Linked DNA regions of Homo sapiens. The protein of the gene in region 1 purifies or fractionates together with the protein of each later gene. This does not show direct contact. Each region holds a gene or a part of one and is shown on either strand. Other genes may lie near its edges.

Region 1 (3,823 bases):
AGCAGAGTGCTTTGCATAAGGCACATTCTTGAGAAAATGTCCAGTGAGTTGAAATGGTGATTGGTGCCCATTTTATTGCCAGCACTACTCGTTAATACCCGAAGGTTAACAGGCTAGAACTTGCATACCGTGGCAGAGTCACATCTTGGGATTTTTCCCTTCCTGGCTTCTGCTCTCTGTTGATGTTATGTTCTTAGATTGCTTATTGCAGTCAAAGAACCCTGCTGGCTGTTACCCCTCCCTTGCAACTCTTCCTGACCCTAATTGTCTTACTTTCATGTTTTTTTTTAAATGCCAGATTTTGTGCATTTCTCCCAATATCCCAGGGTGCCCAATTTTATCTCTCCTCCCTCCCCAAAAACTGTACAGCCAAAAAGACTTTAAACACTTTTTAAAATTTAATTTTATTAGCCGGGTGTGGTGGCTCCTGCCTGTAATCCCAGCACTTTGGGAGGCTGAGGTGGGTGGATTACCTGACGACAGGAGTTCGAGACCAGCCAGGCCAATATGGTGAAACCCCATCTCTACTAAAAATACAAAAAAATTAGCCGAGCGTGGTGGCGGGTGCCTGTAATCCCAGCTACTCGGGAGGTTGAGGCAGGAGAATTGCTTGAACCCGGGAGGTTCAAATTAAAGCTTTTAGTTTTTATTTTTAATAGAATCCAGCTAATGCAGGACAAAAAGTCTTGAACCAGATTTTCTTTTCACTCCCTTTTTAATAGGAGAAGGGAACTCCATAACCAAGGCTTAGACCCTCTTGAGGAGAGAGGAACTTGAGGAAACCATAAAATCTTACCTTTTTCAGACTCATTAACTTAAAATGGTTTGAAATAGCTTCTGGAGGAAAAACATGATATAGTGAAGCTTCTACTCTGTCTTTTGGGAATTTATGGTTGTCCTTATAAATCTCTTCTTAGTAACAGGCAAAACTTGTTAATTTAGAGAATTAAAACATCCTCTCTCAAAAGTGAACTACATTGGCTTTTGAAGAACTGTGAGAATGGCCAGGAGTAGTATTTTGCCAGTATGCTGCCTTTGCTAACTAGCATCATTTAAGAGGACCTAAAATAAGAATACTTTATTAAACATACGCTATAATCCATACTTACTAACCATAGCGCAAATTAATGTTAACATACCCTATAATCCATACTTACTAACCATAGCACGTGTTAATGGAATGGGGCCCGACTTTTGGAGTAGCATTTGTATAAACCCTAAAGGGTTCAACTGAGGCTAGTTTTCAAGTTTATTGCTGCTTTAATGAATCATTAACCTCATACTCATTGGCCTAGCCATGAAAGTAAATACTGCAGACTTTTTTTACTTTGCTAGCAAAAAGTTTCATATATAATAGGTTAGAATAGCAATTGAAATGCAAAGTAATAAGTGTATTCCCTTGTAGAATCATCCTGGGCCTCATCTTGAAACTACATGTCCAGTGAAAAATATCCTGTCTGGTTATATTATCTGGTCAATGAGAGTTTATTACATGAGGTAGAGAAAAATGTCTGCTCATAGGTCCAAATAGGAGTTTTGAATTCTAATTTTCACTGAAAAGTCCTTGCAATTTTACAACATTGAAAATAGAGACATTTTGCTCTTTTATGAGATGTCTGGCCTTTACCTGTTTTTCTCACTAAGAGCTGACTTAAGTTGGAAGTGCTGCTAGCCAGGGAGCAAAATCACCTGGTGATTGCTAAGGCGACATATAATTCATTGAGTGAGAAGGGAAGCTGGGCTCTCTCTGCCTTCTCTTTCAGCAGCCTGCCAGGTTTGTGCTAACAGCAGTGGATGCTAGTTGCTCCAGTTGTAATTGTCTAGCCAATGATGATTATCTTCTGATGTCGGCTGACACGGTGCCCACCAATAGGAAAGCAGGAGGCCTGTGCTGACTGCTGTAACATTATGTATGTGAGGTGACGTCTTCAAAGGGCTTGCCTAGAACTTCATGAAACCCTCCCCCTCTCCTGGCATTCTCCACACATCCAGCCTTTCAAAGCTTTATATATTTTTCTGACTTTTCTCCCCACTCACTCCCTTGGTGGTGTAAAAGGGTTTACTTGTTTTAACATTTTGTATTCTGTATTATAGAGTCTATAAGATAGTATAGGAATTTTAAGAATTAAATGCTGTTCAGCTGAGGAAGCCTTTTTATTCACAAATTTGTTTTTACCAAAGGTAAAAATGGAGTGAAACATTTTATTTTATTTTGTTTTATTTTTGAGACAGGGTCTCACTCTGTTGCCCAGGCTGGAGTGCAGTGGCACAATCTTGGCTCACTGCAACCTCTGCCTCCGGGTTCCAGTGATTCTTATGTCTCAACCTCCCAAGCAGCTGGGATTACAGGTGCCTGCCATGACACCAAGCTAATTTTTGTATTTTTAGTAGAGATGGGAATTCACCGTGTTGGTCAGGTTGGTCTTGAACTCCTGACCTCAAGTAATCCGCCCACCTCGGCCTCCGAAAGTGCTGAGATAACAGGCTTGAGCCACTGCAACCGGCCGTGAAACATTTTAAAAGGAGTTGTACATCTATATCTTTTTTGTAGGTGAAGTTTGGAAAGTAACACGATGTACAATTTCATGATTAAAGAACATAAAAAGCACTAAAAACCTGTGTTAGCATTTAACTCAAATATAGCAGCATAAAAAATATAGCAGCATAATGTTAATGAAACTGTTCAAATGCAGACATAGTATTTGGCTGTTGTTTTTCATTTAGTGAGGATTGCTTTGAATTGCTTCCTGAAGTCTTCCTTGCAACCTTCTACATTCATTTGTAAGAAAAATGGCTGGAAAACAGTGCATCTGTGACTATGGAACAGAGTAGGCCAGAGTTTCATTTCATCATTAACATTGCAGCAACAAATTTGGTCAGCTCTGTAGGAATATAGTGTGTCTATATTGTACTCATGTCACTTGCTGTTTATTTTGAGGTATCACAGTTCATATTGATTTAGGATTAAAACTTGTGTGAGGATCATAACATGACATTCAATAATTTTTAGAAAGCACTGGGATGTAGGCATATGTACTAGGTTAAGAGTGAGAAGAATGAGAAAATACATAGAGAAAAAACGTGTAATCTGTGTGGGGTCCTAGAAAATAATGTAAAGTTGTGCTGGAGCTTTGATATGAACTTTCATGTATCTTTTAATAAATTATAAATATTCATGCAATTCTTGTTTAGGATTCCAAAGGATGAAAGCCAGCTTAATGCAAAATATTTTATGATTATATTATCCATCTGTGTATTTGTACTAGTTATAATTAGTGCTTAAAATTTTTTCATGAAGTCTTTTTCACATTGGAAGTAAAATTTTGTGATCTTCAGAGGATTGCCTGTTGCTTTTTTGTTTGAGGGTGATTCTAAATGTGTCAAAGTGTATAACATTGGAACTTAATGAAACTTTTCAAATGCAGACATAGTATTTCACTGTTGTTTTTCCTTTAGTGAGGATTGCTTTAAATTTCTTCCTGAAATCTTCCTCGTAACCTTCTGCGTGCATTTGTAAGAAAAATGGCTGGAAACTTCAAAGTCAACTTATTCCATATCTAAGAGTTGCCTTATATACTTCCTTGAAAGAAGAATCTTTCTTTTTCTTTTTTTTCTTTCTTTCTTTTTTTTTTTTTTCTTGGATGGAGTTTTGCCCTTGTTGCCCAGGCTGGAGTGCAATTGTTCCATCTCGGCTTACTGCAACCTCTGCCTCCTGGGTTCAAGTGATTCTCCTACCTCAACCTCCTGAGTAGCTGGGTTTACAGGCATGCGCCACTACACCCGGCTGATTTTTTTGTATTTAGTAGAAACGAGTTTTCACCAT
Region 2 (3,823 bases), on another chromosome or scaffold:
CACTGCAGCCTCAACCTCTCAGGCTCAAGCAATCTTCCTGCTTCAGCCCCACAAGTGGCTAGGACCACAGGTATGCACCACCACACCCGGCTAATCTTTGTATTCTTTGTAGAGACGAGGTTTTGCCAGGTTGCCCGGGCTGGCCTTGAGCTCCTGAGCTCAAGTGATCACCTGCCTCAGCCTCCCACAGTGTAGGGATTATAGGCATGAGCCACCATGCCAGACCGCCACGGAAGAGTTCTATGAGGTGACTATTCACTCTAGCAGTATACAAGGGAATGGAATCATATGCAGTAAATTTAGAGACAAGTAGAAAAATTAGGAAAATGACCATCATTTCATTAGGAACTGACCAGATGATAAGGAGTGGAAGGAAGTATCTAAAATGACTCCTTGATTTCTGGCTTAGGTTAATAGATGAGAGTCATCTCTTTAACCAGGACAGTAATGCTGGGGAAAGAGGAGCAGATTGAGAAAAAGGTAAGTTTAGTTCTAGACCTGATGAACTTGAGATCCAGGTACATGCCTTGTAAGCAGCTGGACTACAGAAATAGACCTCAAATGATTTACATTTACTAATTCGGTATTAATTCACATCTCTCAAGCTATCAAAATTTTACTAACAAAGGCAAAATTGACTGTCAAAATTTAGATGTTCTCTCTGACCCTACATACCCTTATTTGAGGAATTAGCAGGAAAAAGAAAGAAAGAATAAGAGAAAGAGGAAGGAAGGAATGAGCAGAAGAAAGGGATCTGGGAAAACCGTGTTTAACAGTTAATGTCCTGCCTAGACAATACTTTCATATGTCCTGTTTAGGAAGCAAGCAAGTAAGAGATAAAAAAGGGAAAAAAACATCCAATCACGCATGTAGAGATCTATGTCACTAGAGTGGTGGTTATTTGAACTGAACTATAATGAATGTTAAGAATCATCGTCAATTGTTTACTCTCCTTACTTTAGCTTATTCTTAAAATCTATTTTCTCAGCATGGTCTACAACAGAAGAACCTGTTCTATTTTTAAAAAGTACAGAATTCAACGTTGGATGATGCAGGGTTAGACCCACCTCTCTTTCCTTCTTCTCGACTCACAGTTTTTATCCTTATCTTTGTTTCTTTTTCTTTTATGTGGGCTTCTACTCCTATCCCTTCTATGTCGTGAACACTCAGCATCCAAATAGCTTCCACCAGACTGCCGTGAATCTACTGAAGCTGATCGCCTTTCTTCATTCCTAAAACACAGAAAAGAATGTTAATCAGTTTGTGTTACCACTGGTCTCCAGTATACGTACACAGACACACCAGTCTAAAGTGTAATATTCTATATCAAACCAATGGTAGATATGGTCTAAATATGCACAATCTTATAACCCATATAAAAGGACAAATAAACACAGCTCTTAACCCATTTATGCCTGAGGTTGCAATTTTTTTAATTTTTGCAATGAGACCTTGGCGATGACCTTGAGCAGTAGGACATAAATAACTCCCACATGCTTGGTGTTCCCATAATGGAATACTAGGCATAAATGTTAGTATGTTTTGCTATTTGAATATTTCACTAATATGGCTATCCCCTGAAAACTGTCAAAGGGTAATGTCAGAACAACTCTGGTACAATAACCCTGGGCACTGACAACGAAAAACAAAAAGCATTTTCACGAGTTTACTGTGTGCTATCAAGGGTTTTGGAAATGCTAAAATTTAACAATTATAAGTTAATTGTTATCTGTTATCAAAGAGAGAGTATTTTCACCAATAAAGATAATGACGTACTTTTCGGCATCATCCTCTGCCTTCTCTTGCTCTTCTTGCCAATGATTGCTGAGTTCTTCCATGTGCACATTTATCACATCTCGAATCACCTTGGGAGAGGTAAGCACCGAACTTCAGGTAAGAAAACTGCTCAAAAAATTAAGACTGTAACGCTAGAAAAATCAGTGCTAACAATCAAATATTTACTAAGTGCTATGACATAATTGACTGTGGGACTTGTGCAGTTTAGAGAACACAGAAAAGGCAATGGTCAAACTGGAATATGAATAGTAGATAAAAGTTTTACAGCAATATTAAATTTGAAGTTGCTATAACTGTACTACCTTTATGTGAGAAAATATCTCTGTTCTTAGGAAATACATACTGGGGATAAAGGGTTATGAGGTATGTAATTTAACCCTTAAAGAATTCAGGGGAAAAAAATATGTACAGATCGAGATCGAGAGAGTGAAAAATGTGCAGAGAGAGAGAGAGAGAGTGCCAATGAGAAGCTATGTGGCAAAATGCTAACAATGGGTGATCTGGGTAAAGACAATATGGGAGTTCTTGGTACTATTTTTAGTTTTGCAATTTATCTCTCTATTAGAGCTTATTTACAAATGATTTTTTTAAAACCTTATAATTAAGTCATCTTGACTTAATCATATGACTTAATAAGACAAAATATGAAACATACAGTCACTTCACAGATACTTTCTGAATGACTCTATAAAGAAACTTTCAAATAGGTAAAAACCACTTGAAAGTTTTTCCTTTCCTATTTACCCATGCCACCAAGCACAGGGTTAGTCACTGCAGAGGCAAAGACAAAACTAAAATAGGAGTTTACACTTCCCTCATGATTAAATAGAAAATGTTTTCAGAAAAAAGGTATAGGGGACACGGGGCAATCTCAGAAACACTATTCATTCAGGCCTGACTGCATTTCTCCCCACCTTAAAGAAACTTTCAATGGCTCTCAAAGTAAAATCGAACAATATCCAAACTCCTTAATGAAGCCTTCAGAGCCCTCCAGGATTTTCCTACATAAGATAGAACTTAGCCTCATCTCTCAACAGAGAAGCCCTAAGCTCTAGCCACCCTGGGTTACTAATGAGTCTCTGAAAAACTCCTATACTTCTATCTGCTTTTCAGAATGCTAGTTCTTCCACCCGGAAAATCCTTATCCACCACTTCTCCTCCTCCACTATATTCTCCCATGGAAAACCTAAGATATGCCAAGGTCCAACCTAGCGGAGTGACATGAGTCACACACACCTATCTCAAGTTCCAGCTCTCGCACTTCCCTGGCAGGCCTACAAGCCTCCCTGTCAGCAGCTCTATGTAAGCGCCTTGAAGCCTGCTATTTGCACAGAATCCACCTAGCTCAGGCTCCACCACATAGGCAAGAGTCAATAGCAGACATTCCTTTATTCCTCCTTGCTTCTCCCTTTCCCTCAAATGCTTTTCTCTATGAAGCCCTTGCCAATCTTTTATTTCAATTTTTGAAGCTGGGTGATGGGTACATTCCTTAGACGATGCTATCCACTTTAGTATATGTTTGAATATTTCCACAATAAAATATCAACTATAAAACCGTAAAGAATGCTAGCAGCAACATTTAAGCTTGATTACAAGGGTTATGAGACGAGAGAAGAAATAACTGATGAGCCAAGTATCTTAGGGACTATGAGAATCACCAAGGTAGTATGACAGGGACCCAGGTCTCTACTTGCTAAGTTAAGTCTAAAACACAGATTTTAACTGTAAAAAGAACAGCATAAAATTTAGAGCTAAGCTGTGTGGTACAGAGTATTAGTACAATAAACTAGTGATAGATTAGTCAACTAGCACCTCATGGAAATGGTGGCCCTTAAACTCAACAAGATTTAAAATGGCAAAAACAGAGCATTTCAGGTAAGAAAGTAACAGGTAATAGGGCATGGAGGTAAGAATAATTATATGCAATCAGATATAGTTTAAGAGACATGCTTGACTAAAGCAAAAGAAATGCTTGGGAAAAGGAGGCCAGATTATGGAAGGTCTTTTAAATCAGAGAGAAGTAAGA

Evidence for each region.
Region 2: the proteins of ELOVL6 (region 1) and SNRNP48 purify together in Homo sapiens (affinity purification with mass spectrometry; one large-scale study listed by BioGRID and IntAct). This does not show direct contact.

What each region holds. Positions count from the first base shown.
Region 1 is NC_000004.12:110,192,006-110,195,828, reverse strand, and holds part of ELOVL6 (very long chain fatty acid elongase 6), read left to right. Parts: intron 1-3,823. UniProt on the Homo sapiens protein: Catalyzes the first and rate-limiting reaction of the four reactions that constitute the long-chain fatty acids elongation cycle.
Region 2 is NC_000006.12:7,603,440-7,607,262, reverse strand, and holds part of SNRNP48 (U11/U12 small nuclear ribonucleoprotein 48 kDa protein), read right to left. Parts: intron 1,866-3,823; coding exon 1,777-1,865; intron 1,233-1,776; coding exon 1,068-1,232; intron 1-1,067. UniProt on the Homo sapiens protein: Likely involved in U12-type 5' splice site recognition.